3 linked regions of the Homo sapiens genome follow. The protein of the gene in region 2 purifies or fractionates together with the protein of the main gene of each other region. This does not show direct contact. Each region holds a gene or a part of one and is shown on either strand. Other genes may lie near its edges. The genes, in order: CEP170, TSPOAP1 and CPVL.

What was found.
Region 1: the proteins of TSPOAP1 (region 2) and CEP170 purify together in Homo sapiens (co-immunoprecipitation; one large-scale study listed by IntAct). This does not show direct contact.
Region 3: the proteins of TSPOAP1 (region 2) and CPVL purify together in Homo sapiens (pull-down; one large-scale study listed by IntAct). This does not show direct contact.

What each region holds. Positions count from the first base shown.
Region 1 is NC_000001.11:243,129,690-243,133,340, reverse strand, and holds part of CEP170 (centrosomal protein of 170 kDa), read left to right. Parts: intron 1-3,651.
Region 2 is NC_000017.11:58,308,218-58,311,868, forward strand, and holds part of TSPOAP1 (peripheral-type benzodiazepine receptor-associated protein 1), read right to left. Parts: intron 3,506-3,651; coding exon 3,354-3,505; intron 2,997-3,353; coding exon 2,619-2,996; intron 2,535-2,618; coding exon 2,295-2,534; intron 1,942-2,294; coding exon 1,750-1,941; intron 1,164-1,749; coding exon 324-1,163; intron 1-323. UniProt on the Homo sapiens protein: Required for synaptic transmission regulation. It probably controls the recruitement of voltage-gated calcium channels to the presynaptic membrane, and modulates neurotransmitter release.
Region 3 is NC_000007.14:29,066,392-29,070,042, forward strand, and holds part of CPVL (probable serine carboxypeptidase CPVL isoform b precursor), read right to left. Parts: intron 1-3,651. UniProt on the Homo sapiens protein: May be involved in the digestion of phagocytosed particles in the lysosome, participation in an inflammatory protease cascade, and trimming of peptides for antigen presentation.

The sequences.
Region 1 (3,651 bases), on a different chromosome or scaffold from region 2:
TTTTTGACTGTATGTTATTTGTCTAGCACTGTTTTTGATGTCCTCACATTTGAGTGTAGAAGGCAGGTAAACAGTTAATTATAGTTCAGTGTGTTAAGGGAAATATAGGATGGTTACTATGGAAGCCCATAGCAAGGGCACTTGGGAAATTCAGAGAAGGGCTCTTAGAGAAATTGCCATGCAATTTAAGTCCTGAATGATGAGGAGAGGAGTTACTCAAAAGCTATGTGAAGTGAAAGGGCCAGAGTATGGTGAGAGATGACACTAGAGAGATGAGGATGGATCTGTTTTGGCAGAATTTGTTAAGGAGTTTGGATTTTATTATTAAAAACCATAGGAAGCTAATATATCCAATATGGGTCCTCTTGATACACCAGTGCTATCTGTAAAAATATCATGAGAGTCTTGTATGGTCATGTGGCTTGCACCTGGAAAACCCTGGAGTCTCCTTACCTGTAAACAAGTACACAGTGTTTTTTCATCCTACCTACTGAAATACAGGTCCGTCCCTGCTAACTGGAGTCTTAACCACTCATTCATTTATTCAGCAGATGTTCACAGATTACCTGCTGTGTACCATTCTCTTCCTTACCACGGAGCAGCTTTCCTACGTTCTGTAGTCTCCCCCAAAGAAAAATATTTTTTGTAGCTTTGACATTGAACTAAAATTGAGAACAAAGAAGACATTGCTGATGGATTGATAACCTGTGTTGTCTCAGAAAGTGACAGAATTTATAAAGTTTAAAAAAGGATGCATAAAAATGCCTCAATAAAGTTATACATAAATACAGAATGTTTAATGTATTTGAATTGCCTTCAGTTCGAGTGTTGAGTTTTACTATGCATAAAGCACTATGGCAGGCTTTATGGAAGGTAATGAGGATAAAACCATTTCTATTATTAAAGAGTTTCCAGTGTAGTTGGCAAGGTGAGGCACATATGCAATCAACTGTCGTACAAGATAGCGTATAATAGATTAGTGCTCAGTTAGAGATATAAAGGCAAAGGAAGGATCACTTTCACCTAGGAGGTTTAGGGAAGGCTTTGGGAAGAAGATACTATTCAAAGGTAGGTCTGAGTTGTGATAACCAAACCTAAGGGGTAGAGACCTGGGCCTTCTGCGTGGAAAGTGCCAGGGTAGTTTGAGAATCAACTGGTCTTTAAGCTTTGTGTCAGGAGTTATAACCTCAAATGTCTACTGGGGTTCATCCTAGAGGCATGCGTACTTACATTGTATGAACACTGTCTGTGGAATCCATTTTTAAATATTTATACAGGAACTCCTGTTGTACAGCATTCTCATTGCATTCCATGTGAAAATGACCCCCTTAGGTTGTGTAGCATGGCCTTGCATTGGTAGACTCTCAATTCGCAACTCCGCGTTCGCATGTTTTAAGGGCTAGTACTAGGGAATTGGTTATGGCTCATAGAATAGGAGCCTGAGACTTCTGTTTGTTTCCCTAAAACCAATGGCTTTATCAAAAGTATTTTAACTTAATTCTTAAATTATTGAATGAAATAAGCTTTGGAATTTTATGTATTTTCATGCTGAAGTTTAGCTTATTTTGAATCTATAATATAATCTGAATATCACTTTGAAAGCTATGATTTTTTCAGCTTAAAATTGATAAGGACCTTCAAACAAAAACAAGTTCTGGTCATTATAGCCTGGTCTAAACTAATTTCTTGGTCTGGTTTTCTGATTCTCTAGTATTTAAATATTAAATATTATAGTAAATATTATAGTAAAGTTTATTTCATAATGCCAAAATGACAAGTTTGACTTCTTAGATCTGTTCTATTATATATTACAAATTGTTTTTTGTTTTTTTGTTTTTTTGTTTTTTGTTTTTTGTTTTTGAGATGGGCTGGAGTGCAGTGGCATGTTCACAACTCACTCACTCAGTGCAGCCTCGACCTCCCTGGGCACAAGCAATCCTCCCACCTCAGCCTTCTTAGTAGCTAGGACTACAGGCATCTGCACCACACCTGCTAATTTTTTTGTATTTTTTATAGAGACGAGGTCTCGCCATGTTGCCCAGGCTGGTCTCGATCTCCTGGCATCAAGTGATCCACCCACCTTGGCTTCCTAAAGTGCTAGGATTACAGGCATGAGCTATTGTGCCTGGCCAACAAACTGTATTTTAAAATAAACCATTTATTTCTTCAGGGGGGCATTTTTTTTTCAGGGGCAACCCGTGAAAAACCCATTTTCACCAAAGGTGAAATGTCTATGGTTTAACAGTTTTAGATCCACAAACACTATACTCAGTAGCCATCCTCTGGAAAAATTCACTGAATTTTTAGCACTGTGTGGCTAAACAGAGTCTTTCTCTATTGTATAAGTCCATTACAGTTCTAAGCTGGTCCATGAAATAGTCATTATTTCCTTATTTTCCATCAGTCCTAATGCTGCAAGGACTCTTTTACAAGAACATAATAATTTAGAAAAGATGGCTGGCAAGGGTGTTCATTTTTTTGAGTTTAGAAAATTTAATAAGTAGGCCATAAGAATATTCTTATACCAGATTCTAGACCCGTTGCCACCTTAAGCAAATGTTCCAGACTTGATGTGATGTTAATGAGTTTCATGTTTTTAAATAAGGTAAGTCTGGCATGTTGATCTTTGAAGAAATACCAGCACAAATATTAACTTAGTTTACTACTTAAATGCTGATCAGCTTGCAGTAGTAATACATTTACATGAGGTTATATAGTGTTGTTTAAACTAGATTTCCAGGCTTACTGAAAAAAATTTAAAAGAAACCAAAAAAGTAGCTAGTATTTACATCTAAGACTGCTGAATCATGTCTGATAGACTCTAAAGTGTTAGAAAAGTGTCCCACATTTGAAAGACACGTCAAAATTTTGTGGTCCTTTATTTTATAAGTTATTTGATGTTAGGGTAATGATAGGATAATTATCTTTATTGGCAATTGTTTTTATCAAAAGGGTAGCATCCTAATTCCTAATAGGTTATTATGTGCAAGTATACTAACACGAATTAACAATTGTTAAAGAAAAGCACAGTAAGTACTCCCAATTTTTTGTCTTCAAAATAATATACACACTTTTCTTGATCGATAAGGTGCTTATTCCCATATAAAGAGGTCTTAACAGACACAATTGTTTATACCTAATTCAACCTATTTTCATCTCACTTATTCCTATACTGCATATATTCTGTCTGAATAAAATTGCATTTTCTTTATAAGTGACAGTTACACAGTCTTTTCTCCTTATACCCAGGTGATACATGTTGTTCCAAGATACCCACTGGATGCCTGACACCACAGATAATTCTAAAACCTAATATACTGTGTATTTTCCTACACATACATGCCTATGATAAAGTTTAATTTATAAATTAGGCACAGTAAGAGATTAACAATAGTAACTAATAATAAAATAGAACATTTGTAACAATATACTGTAAAAAAAAGTTATGTGAATGTGGTCTTTTTTTTTCTCTCTCTCTCTCTCCCTCTCCCAAAATACTGTAATAGTTACGGACCATGCTTGACTGCCACTAACTAAAACCATGGAAAGAGAAACTGTGGATAAGAGGGCATTACTGTATTGTAAATTATAAATATTAAAGTTTTGAGGTCATAACATCATTTACATTTGTTTTATATTTTGTTTTCAATA
Region 2 (3,651 bases):
AGCATCAGGGCAGGTAACCCTGGACATGGCATCACAGTCAGCGTCCTGAAGCCATTACTAGCTATGCAGAGGAAAGGGCGACCCTGCCCACAGGCCGCAACAGGCGACTAGTGATAGAATATTGTGCATCCCAGTCCTGATCAGCAGAAGCAGCAAAGCAGTGGAATGTGGGTGGGAGGAGGCAGGTGAGGGAGCCCGGAGGCCCGGCCCCACCTCTGCTGATGGAGGCAGGCAGCGTGGAATGGGAGCTGCTGGTGGGCAGCAAGCAGGGCCACCAGGTGGCAGCAGGCAGGGGCTGCCCAGGGCGGGGAGTGAGCACGGACCCGGGAGAGTGGCTCCTTGGCTCTGCCCGTCGCACTGCGGCCTCTCCGCTCTGGTTCCCCTTTCTCCCAGGCTGGGAGGCGTGGGTAGGGCTTGGGGCCTGAATTGGCCTTCGGAGGCCCCCTGGGCCTTCCTACAGTTGCTGTGCCCCAGGCCTCCCCATCTCCAGGGTAGCAGGAGCTGGTGATGCTGATGCCCCCGCTGCCCGCCTCCTGCTCATCCTCCGAATCATATTCAATGCTGATTTCCAAGCACTTGGGGGAAAGGCAGCTGGCCAGGCCAGGCTCCAGCGCCCGGCCACGGGAGCACCTCCGGGAAGGGCCCAGCCGGCCTCTCCCGCTAGCCTCTAGTCCAGTCCTGGGGCCCTCAATTACGGGGAGGCCACCCCTCTCCCGTGTGGGGCCCAGTCGTCCAGAGGCCTGGGGCCCATTGTTGCTGAGAAGTCGGCTGCAGTGTTCTCGGGGATCTGGAGGCCGCCTGCGGCTTGGGGGCTTCTCAGGGGAGCCCCCTCCTCTCCTCCGGCTGCTTCCACCAACTAATCCAGGCATGTCTTCCAGGCAGTCTCCAGCCCTGGAGGACTCAGGAGACAAGGGACACTGGCCAGGTCTTCGGGGCTGACCACTGTCACAGCCCAGCCCCAGCAATGCAGGTTCAGGCGGGCCAGGGTCTCGGGAAGAACAGCCTGCCCCTGACTTCTCCTCCTCCTCGTCCTCCTCTTCCTCTTCCTCCTCCTCCGGGATGCTAAAGAGCTTCTTGCTACAGAACTGCTGGAGGGGCAGCTCCAGGATCTGCTCCAAGATCTCCTCATCGCTGTCAGTCTCACAAAAGGGGTCGGGCTGGGACTGGTGGAGGTGGGGAGGTGGGAGTAGAACACAGCAGGGAAGAGAGATGCGTGGGGAAGAGGAGAGCGAGCTGCGATCTTTGCCCTCAAACGAAGGCAGGGGTTACGGACAACCCCACAGCCCTCCCACGGCTTCCTCCGAGAGGAGAGAACCAGAGGGACGGTGGCTGGCCCAAATTCACACACATATCCAGTGAGAGCCAAAGGAAGAATTAGGGAACACACTCTAGGAACCATCACCAGCCCCTGTGGGACAGGAGCATTGAGGAGCAGGCCTCCCCATCCCCTCCCCAGAAGCTACCAGCACAAGGATCTTAGGTGGCACCGGCCTCCCCTGGCCAGGGCGCTGTATCTGGTGGGCTGGAGGGAGAGAAGGTACAGAAATGAACTCCTCCCCTTCCCCTTTCTTTCCAGGAGGGCAGGGGCCAATCCTGGGGCACTTCCTATCTTCTGCTTAGGACAGGGCCCAGGCCACAGACCTAGAATGTTTCTGGCACTCAGTGGTGGTCAGAGCACCTGCTGACACACAGTGGGGAGGCCCCGGAGTTTGAGGCCTGGGGCCCAACAGCCCATCCCTACCCCGTTACCTTGGCCCCATTCTCCCTGATGCTGTTGCCAGCAACCTGCTTCTGGAAGGAGCAAGTCCTGGAACCCAGCTCCTCTTCCTCCTCCTCCTCCTCCTCTTCCTCTTCCTCCTGGATGTCTGACAGGTCTGAGTTGCGGCCGTGGTCCACGAGGGAGTTCACCAGATGAACCCCAAGCTCTGCTGTGTCCTCCTTCTGCAAGAAGTGAGGCAAGGCAGGAGAGATAAGGACAGTGAGGGGGCACAGGGGGTTCCAGGCAGGGTCAGCCCCAGCCACAGTAACAAGGGTCCTTTGGCAGAGGGAGAAAGAGCCATGTCCTAAATGGGGGAGGCACACCATGGCTCAGGGGCAGGGTGGGAGAAGGGAGATGGGAGCCACATGGGACAGAGAAATCCTAGAAGAAAAACAGACACATAGCACAGCCAAAGGTGTGAGAGCAGGACCAGAGCAGAGGACAGGCAGAGAGGGCAACTGGATTTGCGCTGGCAAAAGGTAGGGAGACAGGCCTCAATTCTCTGAAGTGACACAGTGTGTCCCCAAACCCCTACCTCAGCCCTGGGCCTCAGCCCAGACCCTGGGTCTCCTCCTTGGCACATCTCGGTATTTGGCGCCTGCTGGGCCCGTGCTCCCTGGGTGGAGCTGGAGGCCGGACAGGCCTCTCCTGCAGTCCACTCGGCCTCCTGCTTGGCCAGTGAGGGAGCTGCGGGGCCAGGGTCCTTCTCACCCAGGGTAGATGTGCTGGCTGTCCTCTCCTCTGAGGTGCCCAGCACTGCTGCCCCAGCCTCCTCCTGGAACAGAGAGCACTGAGGAAGGACCCAAGCCCAGGTCCCTCTGCCAGCCTGCACCTGCTCCCCTCTCCCCAGACAGGGTACCTGGGAGCAAGGTGCTGGAGGGTCCTCGTGGGACCCTTTTGCCATCTCTCTGGAAGGGCTTGCAGGGGGTGCTCCTGGAGGCTCTTGAGTTCCAAGGGGAGCAGGGTGCTGGAGAGGAGAGCTGGGGTCTCCAGGCCCTGGGGAGGCTGAAGCAAGGGGCGCTCTGGCCTCTGGGCTTGGGTGCGGTGAGGGGCAGGAGACTCGGGCTGGCAGGCTGGCCGGAGCCAGGGCGGGAGTGATAGGAGCCGGGATGGAGTCCGCCGACTCCCCGTGGGGCGACATGGTGCGCACGACCACCTCACGACACACCTGCAGCAGCTGCAGCTGGGACAACTCCACCAGTACACTGCCTGCCGTGGGTGAGGCCACCTCCATGATCTGCAGGGTGGAGGGGGCACAGGATGGGAAGCAGAGGCTGAGACAGCCAAGCGTGAGGATGCACTGACAGCAGTGGCAGCTAACTGACAGCAGTGGCAGCTAGCATTACGCCAGGTACTGTGCTAAGCCCTCTGCATGGCCTATCTCATTTCATCCTCCTGGCCATATGGCTTCAGTGATGGAACAGTTCTAAAATCTGTCATGTGCTGCCAAAGCCCATGCTCTTAACCCATCTGCCTCATGGTACCCAAATGCCAGGGGCTGGGCATCTCCGTGCCAAGCCAGAGAGCCTAGACCTCTGAGCATAGCAAGAAGGGACCCACCCCCACTCCCAGGGTACAGTGGGCAGGGCTATACCTTCTGCCCATCAGCGTAGATGGCATAGCCTGTGACCCGGACACCGTTGGATGTGCCAGCAGCATCGATGGTGACTGGGAGCCAACTGATGATCAAGATCCCAGGGGAGGGCCCAGGCTCGATCTGCACATCCAGAGGGGCATCAGGTGGGCCTGGGGGCAGGGGGGCACAAGACCCAGTGATGCAGGACGCTCCCCATCAGAGATACCTGCCCAATTTGCTATTTCCCTGATAACGCAAATAAGATCAGGGTCCCCTTCTTCCGTCACCCATGGCCTGGCCTCCTGGGTGTTCTGGA
Region 3 (3,651 bases), on a different chromosome or scaffold from region 2:
TAGACAGTGATAAACTCTTGAGTATGTTAGGGAATGACAAGGAGAAAACTAAAGAGGAGTAGGAAGTGTCATGTGTGTGCATGTGTGTATGGGACAATGTAGAGAGGAGGTCACAGAGGACCTCACTTAGAAGGTGGCATTTGAGTAAAGACATATTGGATGAGAGGAATAGAGCCATGCAGACATCTAGGGGAAGGAAGGTTCCAGGCAGAGGACACAGTAAGCTCAAAGGCCTTGCCTATGGGAGTAAGCCTTGTGGGAAGGGTGCCTTAACATGGATCATGAACTGCTCACCAGATGACATGGAGAGAAGACGCAGGATATGGTGCAGATGCAGGTTCCTGGAGCTGGTGGAAGTTATCTTTGGGCTGACATTAAAAAACCCAGTCACCAGCTGAGCGGGAGAGCAGTCAGCATGGTTGCATGCTTTCCTCCAGCCATTGTCAGCTGTGTGGAGACAAGCACAGCCTGACAGAGAGGCAGATTGAGCCAGGGCTGTGGTTCAGCCAAAGGAGTTGGAAGAAATGCAAAAGAGCTTTGGGCTTGGAAATGTATGGAATGACTGACCCTGGGTTGAAGACAGGTAATTAGAGAAATGGAGACTTGAGGGGGTTAGAGATAGTGGAGAGGCAGGAGGATCAATGGATTGAAAGGTAGTGAGGTTGCAGGGCTGTAAGATCAGTACATTAGCAGAAGAGATTCGGACAGGAGGTGGTAGTTGGAGAAAGATGTTTGAATGTGTGATTGTGGATCAGCTGCCAGCATTTTAGGGTATGAGAATCAGCAGCTAAGATGAGGAGGAGAACAAGATCATTGAAAAAGAGGAGGCTGAGGCACCAAGGACCAGGTCCCAAAAGGATCGTCAATGTGGATCCTGCAGTTACCAGGAATTATGACAAGAATAATGCTGCAGAGAGTGACAGGGAGGAAGGAGCTCAGCTATTCAAATGAGAGGGAGTAACCAGGGGTTGGTAGGCAGACACAGTTGGAAGTGGTCAGAGGCCCTGTCTGAGGACAGGAGAGTCAAAGCTCAATGCTTTAGGAGGAGGCAGGGAACATGATCTGAAAGTCACATGATGAGCAAGGAAGACACCTACTCCACCTATGAACCAAGTGATACAGACAAGCTAAGAGAGAGAACAGCCCCCACTCAAGAGGACCACAGGGACTGCAGCATCAGGGGAGAGCCAGGTTTCTGGCAAAGCAAGAAGATGAAGAGAAGAAAATAGTCACAGAAGAGGTTGAAGACATGGAGGGGGGTTGTTGATGATGATATTAAGTTGTAAGGAGTTCTTACAAAAGAATTCAAAGAAATGAAGTCAGCACATGTTAAAAACAATCTATCAAGTACAAATTTAGGTCTCTTATCAGATAAGGTATTATTATTCTAATTTTATGGGTGAGAAAACTGAGACACATGAGTTTAAGCAACTTGCCGAGGACACCTCACTAATAATGTCAGAGATGAGATGATTAGGCCACGACTCCTGAGCCTGCACACTCAACCACGCACACACTGGCTCCCAGCAGTCAGCCTGCAATGCTTCCTACTTGCCAATTCCTTCTGGCCATGCTTCAATGCTTGAGAAAATAGACTAATTATTATATTCATATTCTTTTTTTTTTTTTTTGAGATGGAGTCTCGCACTGTCACTCAGGCTGGAGTGCAGTGGTGAGATCTCAGCTCACTGCAACTTCTGCCTCCCGGATTCAAGCAATTCTCCTGCCTCAGCCTCCCGAGTACCTGAGATTAAAGGCGCCTGCCACCACGCCCAGCTAATTTTTTTTTGTGTGTGTGTATTTTTAATAGAGACGGGGTTTCACCATGTTGATCAGGCTGGTCTCGAACTCCTGACCTTGTGATCTGCCCACCTCGGCCTCCTAAAGTGCTGGGATTACAGGTGTAAGCCACCGCCCCCGGCCTGTATTCATATTCTTTTTCAAACATGAAAGAACTTATTCAAGTTCCTATTGCCATGGGGCTAGAGGCCAAGAATGAAAAGGGTTATCACCATAGAAGGCGGTGTGGGTGGAGGTGGTAGTAAGTATTCTCTACCAATGCTACCATTGCTCAGGGCCCCACATCTGGTTGTGCAGCTCCATGCGATGCCTGTGGCTAAGGGGTGCAAAGGGACAGGGAACCAGCCAAAGTTCTGCTCGCTGAGCTGGAGAGCCTGGCTCAGGGCTGCATCTGGAGAAGTGGCCACCTCTTATCCTCACACAATGGAGGCATCTGCCTGCCCCGTCCTGAACCCACAGGACTGCATCACCACAGAGGAGGTGTCTTTTTCTTTTTTTTTTTCTTTGTTTTTTTTTTTTTTGAGATGGAGTCTCGCTCTGTCACCCAGGCTGGAGTGCAGTGGCGCGATCTTGGCTCACTGCAAGCTCCGCCTCCTGGGTTCACGCCATTCTCCTGCCTCAGCCTCCCGAGTAGCTGGGACTACAGGCGCCCGCCACTACGCCCGGCTAACTTTTTTGTATTTTTAGTAGAGACGGGGTTTCACCGTGGTCTCGATCTCCTGACCTCGTGATCCGCCCGCCTCGGCCTCCCAAAGTGCTGGGATTACAGGCGTGAGCCACTGCGCCCGGCCGAGGTGTCTTTTTCTAATTTGTTCACCCAGATGGGGCACCATAGGCCAGGGTCATTCTGAATGCACACATCATTTTTGGAACTCATTGTTAGAAATTATCTTCAACACCAGTGGGAATATAAAGTCAACCTTGAAGAATAACTTTGCTTTTAGAAAGAGTTAAAAGTCATTTGTTGGCCAGGCATGGTGGCTCACAGCTGTAATCCCAGCACTTTGGAAGGCCGAGGCGGGCGGATCACTTGAGGTCCGGAGTTTGAGACCAGCCCAGCCAACACGGTGAAAACCCGTCTCTACTAAAAATAAGAAAAATTAGCCATTCGTGGTGGCGAGTGCCTGTAATCCCAGCTACTCGGGAGGCTGAGGCAGGAGAATGGCTTGAACCTGGGAGGTGGAGGTTGCAGTGAGCTGAGATCTTGCCACTGCACTCCAGCCTGGGCAAGAGAGCGAGACTCCGTCTCAAAAAAAAAAAAAAAAAAAAGAAAAAGTCAGTTGTTGTCAAAAAATAACATGGGTGGTCAAGACCTGTGAAACTAAGAACTTTGTGATTCAGAAAATCATCATGGAAAGGGAGGTAATACTGGACAGAGGATCAGTCATTTCACATCTTGCAGAATATCTAAGACGATCCAGGATTTTTACAGAATGCCTGAAAATTACCATAGGATAAATACTGTGGTGGAAATGGGGGAAGCAATTCCAGTCCTCAGCCTGCCACAATCTATTTGTGTATCCTTCGGCAATTCATTGCTATCCCCTGGGGCTCGGCATCCTCTCCACTCACCAGTAAATGTGTGTGTGTGTGTGTGTGTGTGTGTGTGTGTGTGTGTGTGTGTGTGTGTGTGTGTGCATGTAAATGCATAGGGACAGTAGATGACCTATCTCCAGAGTACTCTCCAGCTCTGAGTTACTACTCTTTGATTAATTAAATCATTTTAAAGGATCAGAGCGTCAAACAGGCTTTATCATTTTAGGCTTGAGATTCTGACATTTATATTCCCCTGGGTTTCAGGATTTGTTGGAGTCTTCCTTTGCAGTCACTGAAACACATTTCAACCACAAG